Linked DNA regions of Homo sapiens. The protein of the gene in region 2 purifies or fractionates together with the protein of the main gene of each other region. This does not show direct contact. Each region holds a gene or a part of one and is shown on either strand. Other genes may lie near its edges.

Region 1 (7,270 bases), on a different chromosome or scaffold from region 2:
CTAGAATTCACCTCTTTCTCCTATCTCATTAACCAGATATAAACATTGTCAGCTTTTGGAGGAATTTTGCTTTATTCTCTCTTTTTTTTTGGTCTATAAATTATAATGAATTTTCTTTTTAAAAATTGGTATAATGGGCCTTTATTTAGATTATTTCACCTAAAAATTATGTAATTTGCATTTTCACATATCACTAAATATACTTTAAATGCATAAGTAACTAAATTTTTAAAAACACATAAAACATAAACCATATAATCATTTAATGGGGGAGAAGACAGAAATATGTAAAACAAGAAATGAAAATGGGAAATAACAAAACGGTGTAGCTGAAAGCACTTGTAAAAGAAGTTAGACTTGTTTTAACATAAGAAAAAATTTGCAACACAAATTACCAACAAATATATGTCAAACTCCTACAAATGAATACAAGTACAAAATATGAAAAGATATCAACAGTTTACACAAAAACAAATGGTTCCTTTGAAAAGATACTCAATGTATACTGAAAAAGAAATGAGTTAGAACTCCATTGAAATGCCATTTTTGTCTATCAGCTTATTAAAGGTCAAAAAAATGGATAACGCATGCTTGGAGAATGTGTGGAACAGAAGACAGACTCATACATTGCTAAAGTGGATATAAACTGGTTTAGCCTCGGCAAATGGCAAATTAACACCATCTTTCAGAATTGCAAATATACAGACCCTTTGACCTAGCAATTCTACTTCCAGCATTTATTCAGATATGTTCTCAAATGCACAAAACTACCTATGTACACAGCACATGCATACATACTGCATACATACGCAGCACTCTTTGCAATAGCAGCCCGGGCTCAGAGAGGTTGCATAACTTGCATAACCTGGGGTCACACAGCCAGGAAGTGGCAGGACTGGGATCAACCCCAGAGTTACCATATGACAAGCCTGTGCTCTTACTTCTTCCTCCATGTTGTTTAGAATAATGCCCTCTCCACAGCAATGACTGTAACCAGCTCTGTGTGGCCCACACAGAAAATTTCTAAGGGAAACTGCTTTATCCTTGCACACAACCATGCCAACTGTGGAGTTGCTGTTGCTGAAAAGACACTTAAACATGTTTGAAAGCAACAGCCAAACAGCAGCCCCAGGGAAGACCTCTTACTAGTACTTGGCTTGGCCCATACTGGGTCATTGAGGGCCCAGTGCTCTCCTTTGCAATCATAGTCTCAAAGTCTCTGTCCCTACTAGAGGCAGGCAGAGATCCTGAAGAGTGCTCACACTGTGGTGTGACAAGGTGGGCAAGTAAATAGACAGCCCCTTTGCTGCTCCCCCAGTACAGGGCGCACAGCAGAGTGCTCATGTCCATGAATGATAAGCCGTTAAGGGAAACTAGCAGCTGGGCAATCTAATGAAGGACAGGAGACCTAGATGTGAATCCCCACCTGTCTGTTGGACCCTAGGCCAGAACTTAATCTCTCTGAGACTGGTTGGAAGTGCTGCTAACTATGTGCTAACCTCACCTGCTTTTGCAAGTATCAGAGCAGACACCTGTAAAGTCTGGCACATCACAGGGCTTCCAGTAAGTGGTGAGTGCTCTTTTAAATTGTGGATGTGTTCCAACATTGCCATTTCACCACTTGAATGTGCCTGGCTATGAACTGATTGTGTCCTCCCCAAATTCACATGTTGAAGCCTAATATAGGTTGGATATTTGTCCCTGCTCAAATCTCATGTTGAGTTGTAATCCTCAGTGCTGGAGGTGAGGCCTGGTGGGAGCTGTCTGGGTCATGGGGGTGAGTCTGTCATGGCTTGGTGCTGTCTTAGGGATAGTGACTGAGTTCTGGAGAGATATCTGCTCATTTAAAAGTGTGTGACACCTCCCCACCCCCGCCTCTTGCTCTTGTTTTCACCATGTGACATGCCTTCTCCTCCTTCACCTTCTGCCATGACTGTAAGCTTCCTGAGGCCTCTCTAGAAGCCAAGCAGATGCCAGCACCGTGCTTCCTGTAAAGCCTGCAGAACCGTGAGCCAACTAAACTTCTTTTCATTATAAATTACTCAGTCTTAGGTATTTCTTTATAGCAATGCAAAAATGGCCTAACACAAAGCCCCAGTGTGATAGTATTTGGAGGTGGAGCCTTTGAGAGATAATTAGTCCATGAGGGTGAGCTCCACCTCCTCTAGGAAGCCTGCCCTGATCCAGTAGGCCTCCTGGGGCCTGCCCTGTACCTCTGTCCACCCTTGAGCCAGCCAGGGGGACATCTTTCAGGCCTTACTGATCTGCTTTTTTCTACCTTGAGGGCATTCCTCTGATGGCAGGAAACTTTCACCAGCACTTCTGTGCCCCCAGCCACTGCACTACTCCCTCCATGCAAGACACAAGCCTGGTACTTTGAACATGGGGCAGAACACACATATGGACTGTGGAGAGGTTGTGCTGGGCTTCAGGGAGGGCTCATGCTCTGCTGTTTTTCAGAGGATGAAGCAGAGAAAGGGCCAGGGCTAAAGTCAGGATATGGGGACATGAAGCCCAGTAATGCCACTATCATAGTTGGACTCTCACTCCTGAGCAGCTGACTCTTGGCTGTATCCAGTCTACTCCTTTATTAGCTACTGCTTTGCATCCTTCCCTGCTTCCAACCCTCATTTATTCGTTCAAAAAATGCTTAGTGAACACAGTGCCAGGCACTGTGCAGCTGAGAGCAAGGGACACAGCAGTGGCCAAGTCGGGCTCATCCCTGCCTTCTCTCTCCAGCCAGAGGGAGTGGGCACTTAGCACATTTCTCCTCTCCTCATCTCCACTACAGCATGCAGCACTGGGCCAGGCACATGGGACATACAACAGGATCCATCTTCCTGACAGGAATACCATCATCTCTCAACCCAGTAAGCAGCCAGCATCCTGAAGAACGCCAAAGGATGCCTCCGTCACTTTTCCCCAAAACCAAACTTAATTTCCTACGTCATGCTTGGATGGGGATGCTTAATGACATTATCCAGAAGGATCTGCTCTGGGGCTTCAATCATGGCTGAGCAAGAAAACAAAAACTCTAATTTGCTAATTGCCTTTCCCAGGACCCTAGCAGATGTTCCTACCCGACAGGGAAATGAGGAGACATGAAGTGGCAATGCCACACTGTTTAAGGAACCTCATTAGTTTGAAAAATATGATGCACAGTCTTCAGAGGCCTGGGACCCAAAATCACAGCCACAGAGGCCTGTCTAGCTGAGCTCAATAGGCACGGGGTCTGCAAGAAGACATGACTGCTGTGGGGATTGGTAGTGACTGCGTGAAATGCCCTTCTCTCTGTGTGGCCTCTGGCTTTGGACTTGCTGGAGCCAGAGGTGGGGGCAAGTCTCCTTCTTTCATCTAGCCAGCAGTAATGATGCCTGCCCTGGGGATCTCAGGCTGCTGAAAAGCATAAGACTCAACCACTTTCCCTTAGGGAGACAGCCTACACCAAAGGGGTCAGACTCCACGAGAGATCTGAATAATGACAAAGACTGTAAAAAGAAATCCAGTTAGATACCACTGGAATTCCTTTATAGACTGCATATTACTTTCAAATATATACTACTGCACTTGTAAAAGTACACAGTTGATCTAATCACGCTCCTGCTCAAAATCCTCGACAGGTTCTCTGAGGCTTTCAGGATATTAGATATTAGTGCCTCTGGGGAGCTCCCCAGCCCCCTGTGCTCTCAGAGCCCTTGTACTTGTGCCCACCACAGCTCTTATCACAAGGGGACATGATGTCTCTTTGGCTGCCTCCCTCCCATCGGACTGGGGCAACTTGGGAGCAGGGGCCGGGTGTCCCTCATCAGAGTCCCCATGGACCTGGCTTAGAGAAAGTGGTGGGTGAACGTCTATGGAATGCACGAGCACGAACAAATGAAGAAAAGCAATACACTGCCTTAGAAAGAACCAACACTTAAGAATGAACTGGGAATGCAGAGCACTGTGAGCTCAGACTATTTATTTCATGTCTTTATTTTTCAATTTTTGACTCTGTGCAAAGGTACCAATGATAGGTGCCTGACCTTAGTTTAACTGGAATGTTTTTAAGATTTTTCTTGTGCAAATATTAAGTAGGGAGGCTGTTTTATTAAAGATGCTCATTCAGAATGAACCCACCAACAATGAATGAACTAAAGAACCCCCAAGGTTTTGTTCATAGGCATTCATTAGCTTTTCCCTGCTATACACACATGGAGCTCAGGCTACAACTGGCTGGGCAAGCCCTTTCTTCCCCAAGAGCTCACAAAGAGAGCCATCTGTCCAGTTCCAGGTGGAATCATCTCACGCCTGTTTTCCTGGAGCGAGAATCAATGAGGCTTCCCTGAGCCTCTCCTCCTCCTGGGGTTTCCATGGGAATCCTCCCACGCGTGACTGAGCCAGGGGCCCCCAAGGTGCAAGCTGGGCTGTCAGCCAGCAAGGAGAGCAGCAAATGGGATGAAGGAGGTTTGCTAGGCTGTGACCAGGGCAGCAAGCTCTGCAAGGTCATTTGAAAGAGACATACCACTGAGACAGCAAGGCCACGTGCAGTCCGGGCCAGCCCGGTCACCACAGCTGCCCCTGAGCCCAGAGGCCTGCCCCAGGCACATGTGGAGGTTGTTTGCAGGGCAGCTGGATTCCCTGAGGCCCAGCATGTCTGGGCTGGGTCAAAGCATGAAGGGAGAAGATGGGAAGGGTACCATTTAATGAAGCCCTCTGGGGAAAACGATGATGAAAACATGATAAGGTTTGCGTCCAATCCCTCATTTACCTCCCAAGATGAACCTTCTCCACTTGGTATAACTGGTTGTCTGGAAACAGAATGCCTAAAAGAAAAGCAGAACTATTCATGCCTCTGGCTTGAGCCAGGTCATAATAGGGACCTGCTGGGATTTCTGAAGATCCCTCTGTTAAGCCTACAGTATCTCTGGGGGCATTTTTGAGATACTAAGGAGGAAAGGAGAGAGGATGAGAGGAAGAGAGGAGAAAGGGAGCAGGATCGGGGAGGGAGCTGCTCCAGCCCCAGGAATCTGTACAACTTGCACATTTCATAGAATGCAGATAACAGGTAGATGTCTCCTGAAGGTAGATAACAGGTAGAATGTCTCTGTGGCCAGTAAACCGGGCCAAGGCCCACTCACTTCTGGAGAAAGCAGAGCTCCAGTTCACCATACATGACATTTCACAACATTAAAGGTCAGATGGATGACTTTGGCACTGCTCCAGCGTCTCCCACCACACATACCAGCACATTGAAGTGTAGAGCTTACCACAGCAGCTTTCCTGCCTCCTCCTGGCTCCAATGTCTTCCTGCCTACCCCATCAATGGGGCACCCCCAAGTCCATTGCTTCAACTTCAGTTTCCGCTTTTCACTCTCTCTCTCCATGCATCTTCTCTTATGACCTGCATCTCCAGCCCCGTGCAGACACTCTCAAGCCGGGTCTCCAGTGCTGCCTTCTCTCCTCAGCACAAGACCTACCTACTAGAAGCCCCTGGTCAGCCCTGCCTGGGTGTTGTTTCAAATGACCTTGTAAGGCCAGCTGACCTCTTTCCATCATAAGCCTCCTACCATGGGCACACCCACACTCTCAGCCCTGCGGGACATCTGTGGTCCATGTGCACCTCGGAATCTGCAGGTCCTAGGCTGAGCCTGGCCTCTTCCCTCTCTCACATGCCAGGTTCCTCTGCATGTCACTGTTCCTGCCATGGATCCCGTCTCTTGGTCCCCACCACTCAACCCCGTCAGCTTTCCCCTAGTTCAGAACTTGCCTGGATTACTCCACTGGTCTCTTAGCAGGCTTCCCTGACTCCACTGTTTGCCCGCCAACCCACTCTCCATGCTGCCAACAGGTAAGTTGGACCAAGACACCCACCAATCTCTTCATTCAACCCTCCAGGCAGCTTCTCCAGAGAGAAGCTGCACCTCTTTGCTTGGCACCCAGGGGCCCTCCAGGCTGCTCTTATTTCTTCCACACTGTCTGTCATCACGGCCCACCTCAGACCAGTCATGCCAGACTCTCCTCGTCAGCACATCCTGGGACTCTTCCCATCTTCTCTGACCTGGCTGACATTCTCTCACTCCCCTGCCCCTTCTAGCAGAAGCAGAACTGGGCACCCCTCCGTGGCAGCCCCTCAGCCCACTACATCCTCTTCCCTCCGCCCCATTATGTCCTCTTGCCTACGTCCCACTGCACCCTCTGCCCTCCAACCCACTTTGTCTTCATCTTAGCTGTTGATTCCTGCTGCTATCTCTTGCACCACATCTGCATTTCTTAATGGAGCCAGTGCCCAACCAGCCTTTATCTCCAATACTCGTACACAGCCTTGTACCTGTTACCTCTGGCTGCATTAAGACGTGCTTGTCAGACTGAAGAAGGACTAGCCACTCTATACCTCCTGCATGGTTTGCATTTTTTTTTTTTTTTTGAGACGGAGTCTCGCTCTGTTGCCCAGGCTGGAGTGCAGTGGTGCCATCTCGGCTCACTGCAAGCTCTGCGTCCCAGGTTCATGCCATTCTCCTGCCTCAGCCTCCCCAGCAGCTGGGACTACAGGCGCAAGCCGCCACGCCGGGCTAATTTTTTGTATTTTTAGTAGAGACGGGGTTTCACTGTGTTAGCCAGGATAGTCTCGATCTCCTGACCTTGCGATCCCCCCGCCTCGGCCTCCCAAAGTGCTGGGATTACGGGCATGAACCACCACACGTATACATTTTAAATGGAGTAAGTTCTGAACTCAATGTGTGAAGCAAAAATCACATGCAATCAACACTGCTTAGGAAAGTTCTTCTAAAGTTCCACACAAAGTTCATGATAACTGGTTTGAGGTATACCACCTCTTTCCCAAAGGGCACACCACCCACAACTGTTTTTCCTATAGCCTCAAAACAAATCCCTATTTCTTGAACTGATCAGCAGCAAATAAATTAGTTGGCTTATGTAGGAACCATGTTTTATTAAAAACGTGTTGCTGGTTTAAAAATTTTTTATAGTTGATCTTTTCTTACCACAGATGGTCATGTTCACATAAATCAAGAGTACATACTATGTACTTATATAGTACATATATAGGCAGAGACTTCTGGTGACCTCCATCTACGGCCTGCCACTCCCCTGATTTTCATGCCCAAGACCCTTCACTCCTGTATCAACAGAGAAAAAACCTTTCTAGAGCATGGATGTGTGACAACAGGTCGGGCAGCTCAGGGGAAATTAAGTAACTCCTGTATGGTGAGTTGTACTAGGTCTTTCCCCAAAAGGGCAAGGAATTCTGCACTGGCCACTGTGGCTTGGC
Region 2 (7,270 bases):
GCCTCTGCTCACCCGGGAATGACCAATCTCATTTTCATTCCTGTCCTTCACGCAGATTCCCTTTATGAGCTCCCTAAACACAGACAGGAGTTAATGGACTTGGGAAAGGGGTGATGGAAGCCTGCCAGCCACATGACATGCCAGGGGACCAAGGCCAGGCCACTTAAGCTCCAGGAAGCCACCTCCTGTAGCCTGGGCCTTTGACCTTCCTTCTGCACTCCAATAAGCAGTATCTTAGGAGTGATCTAGGGCAGTGGCTGAGAGCGGTGGCCCTGGGCCCGGACTGTCTGGGTTGAGTCCTGAAACTGCAGGGGATGTGTGTGACCTTGAGCACAGTCTTTAACCCTCCCAAAGCCTCAGTTTTGCTTATCTGCAAAATGGGGATCATCCTGGCACCCACTTTACAGGACCTGGTAAGGATTAAATGAGATAATGGCTATGAAATACTTGGTCCAGCACCTGACACACAGTGTGATCACTCCACAAACAGTAGCTACTCTAGCTATTCCTTTTTTTTTTTTTTTTTTTTTTGAGACAATCGCACTCTGTCACCCAGGCTGGAGTGTAGTGGCATGATCTTGGCTCACTGCAACCTCCATCTCCTGGGTTCAAGCGATTCTCCTGCCTCAACCTCCCCAGTAGCTAGAATTACAGGCATGCGCCACCATGCCCGGCTAATTTTTGTTTTTGTTTTTTGGTTTTTTTTTTGTGATGGAGTCTCACTCTGTCACCCAGGCTGGAGTGCAGTGGTGCGATCTTGGCTCACTACAAGCTCCGCCTCCCGGGTTCACAACATTCTCCTGCCTCAGCCTCCCAAGTTGCCGGGACTACAGGCACCCGCCACCATACCTGGCTAATTTTTTGTATTTTTTAGTAGAGACGGGGTTTCACCGTGTTAGCCAGGATGGTCTCGATCTCCTGACCTCGTGATCCGCCCACCTCAGCCTCCCAAAGTGCTGGGATTACAGGCGTGAGCTACCACGCCTGGCCCTAATTTTTGTATTTTTAGTAGAGATGGGGTTTTGCCATGTTGGCCAGGCTGGTCTCAAACTCCTGGCCTCAGGTGATCCTCCTGCCTCAGCATCCCAAAGTGCTGGGATTACAGGCGTGAGCCACCGCACCCAGCCCACCCCAGCTGTTCTTCTCAGGCCAGTTCTTGACAGCACTCAACTCAAGCCCCGGTAGGTGGCAGGGACTCATTCTCCTGTTAGGAAAGGGCCACTGGATGGGGAAGGAAAGATGAATGGAGCAGCATGTGTGCACAACTATTCTGGTAGTGCTTCCTCTACAAAGACTAGTGTGAACATTTTCCATTTGTTGGTAGTCCCAAGAAAATGTGGCTTGTAGATATTGATGATGATGACAATGGTAGAAATAACAGTGAACACTTATGTAGCATCTCTTATGTTCCAGGTGCTATTTTGAGTGCTTTACATATATTACATCATTAAAACCTCATAACAGAGATTTCTCTAGTCAAGAAATAAGAACTGTGAGACACAATGAGTTTCTCCTTTACCTTTTCTCCTGAAAAGCTTAGAGTTGGGTGCCTGGAAAACTTCTGTCTACTCCTCTGGCTTCTTTCAAAGCTTCTGGGTTCTATGCTATCTTTAGACACCTCAGCCTGCTACATTTCATTCTGTATGCCATCCCCAGGGCTTGGGAAGTAGGAGGAGTTCACAATTTTAACACAGGTCCAAAAGGACATGATCCAGTGTAAAACTCCACAGGTCCACCCTGTCTTTCCCATCCCACATCACCCAGGAGAGGACTCCCACGGGACTCAACACACGGCCTAACCCAAAGTCACCCACCACTCCCGGGGCCATCACCATGGGAGCTGCCAATCCCAGGGCCCTTCAGAGGCTCAGCCCAGCAGCCCTCCCCATGCCCACCGCAGTCCCCAGAAGCCACCCACTGCTTTGGTTTCTTGCCCCTTTTCTGCTAATCTTGTGGTTTGTAGGGAGAAAAAGGGGCCTTTACTCACTGCTGTCGCATCATGGGGATATTGACACAGTTAGCCGCAGCCACAGCGGCAAAGGGCACCCAGCGGCCCACCAAGGGCGGCGCTTTCTGTTGGGGGAAGAGAACAGTAGGAGTTGTTCAGAAGCGCTGGAAGATGGGAGGGGAGGGGGCTGAACGACTAGAATACAAAAAAGAAAACTAGGCCTTGCTACCGCCACACATCCAGACACCCAGTCTGGGAACCCCAAACTCCCTCAAAGGCCCAAGAAGAACCAACCTGGGGACGGCCCTGGTGTATTTCTCATCACTTGGCCAGCCGGGCTCTGGCCATTCCCAACTCACCCAGCCTGGGGAACTGTCCCTGGGGGAAGGACGTTTTCCCTAGGACTCTGCTGCCCCCGCGTGGCCACCATGCTGCAGCGGCCCCAGACCATACCTTTGTCAACATGTTCATGCCCACAGCCGTGGCCACAGCAGTGGTTGTGGCTGTGAAGTAGGAAAGGGCCATCTGCCTGGGGGAGGAGAGAGATGCTTGGGAGTGGGGCCCCTGCCGGCTGAGGGCCAAACCACGGGCTTCAGGGAGAAAGTCGGCTGGCGAGGCTTCGTGCGTGAAAACCGCACAGGATCTGTCCCCAGCCTTATCTTGTGACCCTCTCCCCCTCACTCACAGTGCTCCAGCCCCCTTGGTCTTCTTTCAGTACTGTGAACATGCCAAGTTCCTCCCTGCCTCGGAGCCTCTGCACACGGCTGCTCCCTATGCGGGGAGGTGTTCCCTGGGCTCTTGGGTCATTCATCCCTCATCCTTCAGGACAGTTGAAATGTCGTCTTCACAGATGGGACTGCTCTAAGTGGCCTAACTACACAGACACCGCTCTGCTGTTCTCTGCCTTGCAACCCTGGTTTTCTGGGTGGTTTTTTTTGTTTGTTTTGAGACTGATCTTAGGCAATCTGCCTGCCTCAGCCTCCCAAAGCGCTAGGATTACAGGTGAGAACCACCGTGCCTGGCCCAACCACATGTCTTAACAATGTATCCCAGCATCTAGAACCATGCACATCCCCAGCACATAAGACACACTCAAGAAGAAATATTTAGAGAATGAATGAATAAACACATTTGGAATTGGTCTAGGAAGAAGATCCACCCCTACTCAGCTTGAGAAAATATTTCCAAACCCTGGGAAAGGGTGACTTGGTCACCTGCTCAGTGCAGGTGCTACCCAGGAAGGACTGACAGCCCAGAACCCTTTAGAAAAGCTGTTCGTGGGGAGACACGAGGACAGCCTGGGGTTCAGGTCTCCTACCTGACTGATGTGGGGGAAGCCGCATTCCTGTTGGTGTAGTTGACTAAGGCATTGAAGGACTGGTTCACCCACTGCCAGAAGATCACCGCCGGCATCGTCCTACCAGTGAGGAAGGCCAGGAGAGGCAGAGAGAAGTCAGATGGCAGGGAGTCCTGAGGGTATGCCAGTCAAAGCACATGATCTGCAGGTCCCCACACTGTTCCCATACTAGTTTTTTATTTTTATTTTTTTGAGACGGAGTCTCACTCTGTCACCCAGGCTGGAGTGCAGTGGTACGATCTCAGCTCACTGCAACCTCCGCCTCCCAGGTTCAAGCAATTCTCCTGTCTCAGCCTCCCAAGTGGCTGGGACTACAGGCACACACCACCACGCCTGGCTAATTTTTGTATTTTTAGTAGAGACGGGGTTTCACCATATTGGTCAGGCTGGTCTTGAACTCTTGACCTCAAGTAATCCACCCGCCTTGGCTTCCCAAAGTGCTGGGATTACAGACATGAGCCACCGTGCCCAGCTTGTTCCCATACTGTTTTATGCACCTGGGCTTCTGCGCAGGCTGGCCCCTCTGCCTCAAATATCTCCCCCTCCTCCTTCCATACATGGCCAACCCTGCCCTGTTGAGAGGGATCACTTCCTCCATGGAACCTTCCCGACCCTTTCCCTGCCCCTCCTGAGACAGAGTAAGTCACTCCATGCTCCTGCTCCCACAACCCCATGTTCTTCCTCCAACCTACCACTTACCAAGCTGTACTGTAACTGTTTACTTCTTGGTCTCCTCAACAAAACTGGGAGCTCCTTGACGGGAGGTTACTGAAGCCTTCACATTCCCAACACCCGGCCCAAAGCCCAGCTCAATAGCTGAACCAATCAATGCGTGGGGTGGGGGACGCAGGGGAGGAAGGAAGAGGTAGGAAGAAGAGTCACATGTCCAGCAGCTACAGAGGCAGTCTATTCTCTCCCCAACCAAGCCAAGAAAGGGACTTCCTATTGTTTTGTTTGGGTGTTACATAATTAAAATCATTGTGGAATAAGTACTTTTTAAAGAGGGAATTGGGGTAGCTTATTTGTTGAGGGTTCTACACAGGACTGCCTCAGTTAAAATCCAGGCACCCATATTTCCTGCCTGTTTAAACCTGGACAAGTTCTTCAGCTTCTCTAGAACTCTAGTTCTTCATCTATAAAATGGAAATAATAGTACCTATAGTGTAGGGTTGTTGCGAGGGTTAAATGAAGCAATACGAGCAAAGAATGTAGCATAGTGCCTGGTATCTGGTAAGTGACCAATCAAGAGAACTATTATTATTATCATAGTATGGCTCCCTGACCAGCAGATCCAGGCAGCTGTACCTCCCACGGCCCTGCCCCCAGGTCCCACCTGTAGAACTGGAGCATGAAGCCCGTGATGATCATGCCGCCAGGAAGCTGGAAAGACATGCGCCCGATGACATTCATCTTCTCCCCAGTGTCGGGGTGGAAGGCCGAGTCATACAGCTTCTTGGCATACAGCAGCTGCTCCACTTGGGTGCCTGGGGGCACAACCCCCATCCTGCCACCCAAGGACAGCAGGCAGTCACCATCCTGCCTGATCAATGTCTCCCAGTCTCCCCACTCTCACTTCTTCCAGCCCCCAGCCCTGAGATTTCTGCCTATTCCTTCACCTTCGGTTTCCACCTCCTCCCAAGAGGACCCCATCAATGTTACCCTACTACTTCCAGCCCCTTCCCCGACCCCTCACCTGCTCTTCTCCACCATCACCTTGGCCCAGTCCAGCTCCCGCTCAGATACAAAGACAGTGCGGGGGTCCGTGATGTTTAGGAAGTGCTTCACTCTCCCCAGGAAGGTGCGCTGGTCCCAACGGGGGGCATCGATGTTAAAGCCAGACAGGTCAGCCTCCATCTTGCTCACACATAAAACTGTGGACCTAAGGGACAAAGGAAGAAGATGACTGTCCCCTAAATCAAAGCCCACCACAGAGGACCTGAGCACGTCCCACTGTTGCAGACTGCCTGCTCTCACCAGCTACTGGGCATCGTCTGACTCAGCTTGGGAGGGCCCAAGTGAATGGTCATCAGATTGAGCAACTGGGCACCAACATGTGTTTCCTGAGGGCCTGCTGGTGGCCAGCTCTGTGCTTGACCATACAGCAGGAGGGACTGGAAAAGGGGACAATACAGTGCCTGTGCTTGGAGAGCTCTGGGAACAAAAGCCCACCCATTAAATAGTATAATACCCCCAGGTGTTTCTGGCAGGGGAGATGGGAAAAGTAGCCATTTTGAAAAACAGCCAGCTGGGTGCAGTGGCTCATGCCTGTAATCCCAGTACTTTGGGAGGCCGAGGCAGGGGGATCATGAGGTCAGGAGTTTGAGACCAGCCTGGCCAACATGGTGAAACCCCATCTCTACTAAAAATACAAAAATGAGCCGGGCGCAGTGCCAGGCACCTGTAATCCCAGCTACTCAGGAGGCTGAGGCAGAAAAATTGCTTGAACCCAGGAGGCAGAGGTTGCAGTGAGCTGAGATCACACCACTGCACTCCAGCCTGAGCCTGGGTGACAGAGCAAGACTCCATCTTGGGGGGAAAAACAAAACAAAACAAACAAACAAAAAAACACCCAAAGCCCTTTATACTTCTTTTTTTTATTTAATTTTACTTTTTTTTTGAGACAGGGTCTCATTCTCTCACCCAGGCTGGGATGCAGTGGTGTGATCATGGTTCAATGCAACTATTACCTCCCAGGTCAGCCTCCTGAGTAACTGGGACTACAGGCACATACCACCACCCTGGCTAATTTTTGTATTTTTTTGTAGAGATGGCACCTCGCTATGTTGCCCAGGCTGGTTTCAAACTCCTAGGTTCAAGCAATCCTTCTGCCTCGGCCTCCCAAAGTGCTGGGATTACAGGTGTGAGCTGCCGCATCTGGCCTGTTTTATTATTTAGAGACAGAGTCTCATTATTTTATCCAGGCTGGAGTGAATGGTAATTGACAGGCATGATTATAGCTCACTGCAACCTCGAACTCCTGGGCTCAAGCAATCCTCCAACCTCAGCCTCCCAAGTAGCTGGGACTACAGGCATGCACTATCATGCCCAGCCCTTTTATTCTTCTCAACAAGGTCTACCCTTGAGGGAAACTATTTTACCAGAGCCTAACCATCTTGGGTTGTACCAGAACTTAAGTGACTTGGGGAAAGAGAACTCCAGCCACCTCTTGCCTTCCTGCCTCACCTAAAGAGGACAAGGGGAGGCTGAGAAGCTCTTGTGAAGGTTCAGGGGCACAGGCTCCCCAGAAGACTGAGACCTCATCACAGGACTGTAGATCCTCCACTCCCTCACCTCACCACTGCACCAGCAGGGCTCCTGTATCATTACAAGGATTATAACAAAAAGAGTAACAAGTCTTAGGCCCTATTTAAGAAGTCTCTAGAGACCCATAGACAGCAAGGGAGATAAGAACAAGGACACCAGAAGAAAATTTAGCCTTTTATACCTATAGCTACAGCAAACAGTAAACATAGCCTAGATAAACAAAACCTCACCCCTCAGTTCCTCTCACAGGGTACATCATGTCCAGCTTTCAGTGAAAAATTACAAGGCATACTAAAAAGAAAAAAAAAAAAAACGCAGTTTGAAGAAACAGGCCAAGTATCAGAATCAGATTTAGATATGAGATTTTAGAATTATCAGACCAGGAATTTTAAATAACTATGGTTAAAATTAATTAATTAATTAATTACAACGATGGTTAATATTCTAAGGACTCTGAAGGGAAAAGTGGACAACAGACAAGAACAGACAAATAACATAAGCAGTGATGGAAAATCTTTTTTTTTTTGAGACGGAGTCTTGCTCTGCCACCAGGCTGGAGTACAATGGCACGATCTCGGCTCACTTCAACCTCTGCCTCCCGTGTTCAAGTGGTTCTCCTGCCTCAGCCTCCCAAGTAGCTGAGACTACAGGCGTGCACCACCATGCCCAGCTATTTTTTGTATTTTTAGTAGAGATGGGGT

Evidence for each region.
Region 1: the proteins of SFXN2 (region 2) and SPSB4 purify together in Homo sapiens (affinity purification with mass spectrometry; 2 studies listed by BioGRID and IntAct, with this or other methods). This does not show direct contact.

Annotation. Positions count from the first base shown.
Region 1 is NC_000003.12:141,054,101-141,061,370, reverse strand, and holds part of SPSB4 (SPRY domain-containing SOCS box protein 4), read right to left. Parts: intron 1-7,270. UniProt on the Homo sapiens protein: Substrate recognition component of a SCF-like ECS (Elongin BC-CUL2/5-SOCS-box protein) E3 ubiquitin-protein ligase complex which mediates the ubiquitination and subsequent proteasomal degradation of target proteins.
Region 2 is NC_000010.11:102,724,526-102,731,795, reverse strand, and holds part of SFXN2 (sideroflexin-2), read right to left. Parts: intron 6,861-7,270; exon of another isoform or gene 6,829-6,860; coding exon of another isoform or gene 6,800-6,828; intron 6,711-6,799; exon of another isoform or gene 6,489-6,710; intron 5,185-6,488; coding exon of another isoform or gene 5,160-5,184; coding exon 4,999-5,159; intron 4,810-4,998; coding exon 4,639-4,809; intron 4,122-4,638; exon of another isoform or gene 4,005-4,121; intron 3,366-4,004; coding exon 3,267-3,365; intron 2,478-3,266; coding exon 2,402-2,477; intron 2,074-2,401; coding exon 1,988-2,073; intron 74-1,987; coding exon 13-73; exon of another isoform or gene 1-12. UniProt on the Homo sapiens protein: Mitochondrial amino-acid transporter that mediates transport of serine into mitochondria. Involved in mitochondrial iron homeostasis by regulating heme biosynthesis.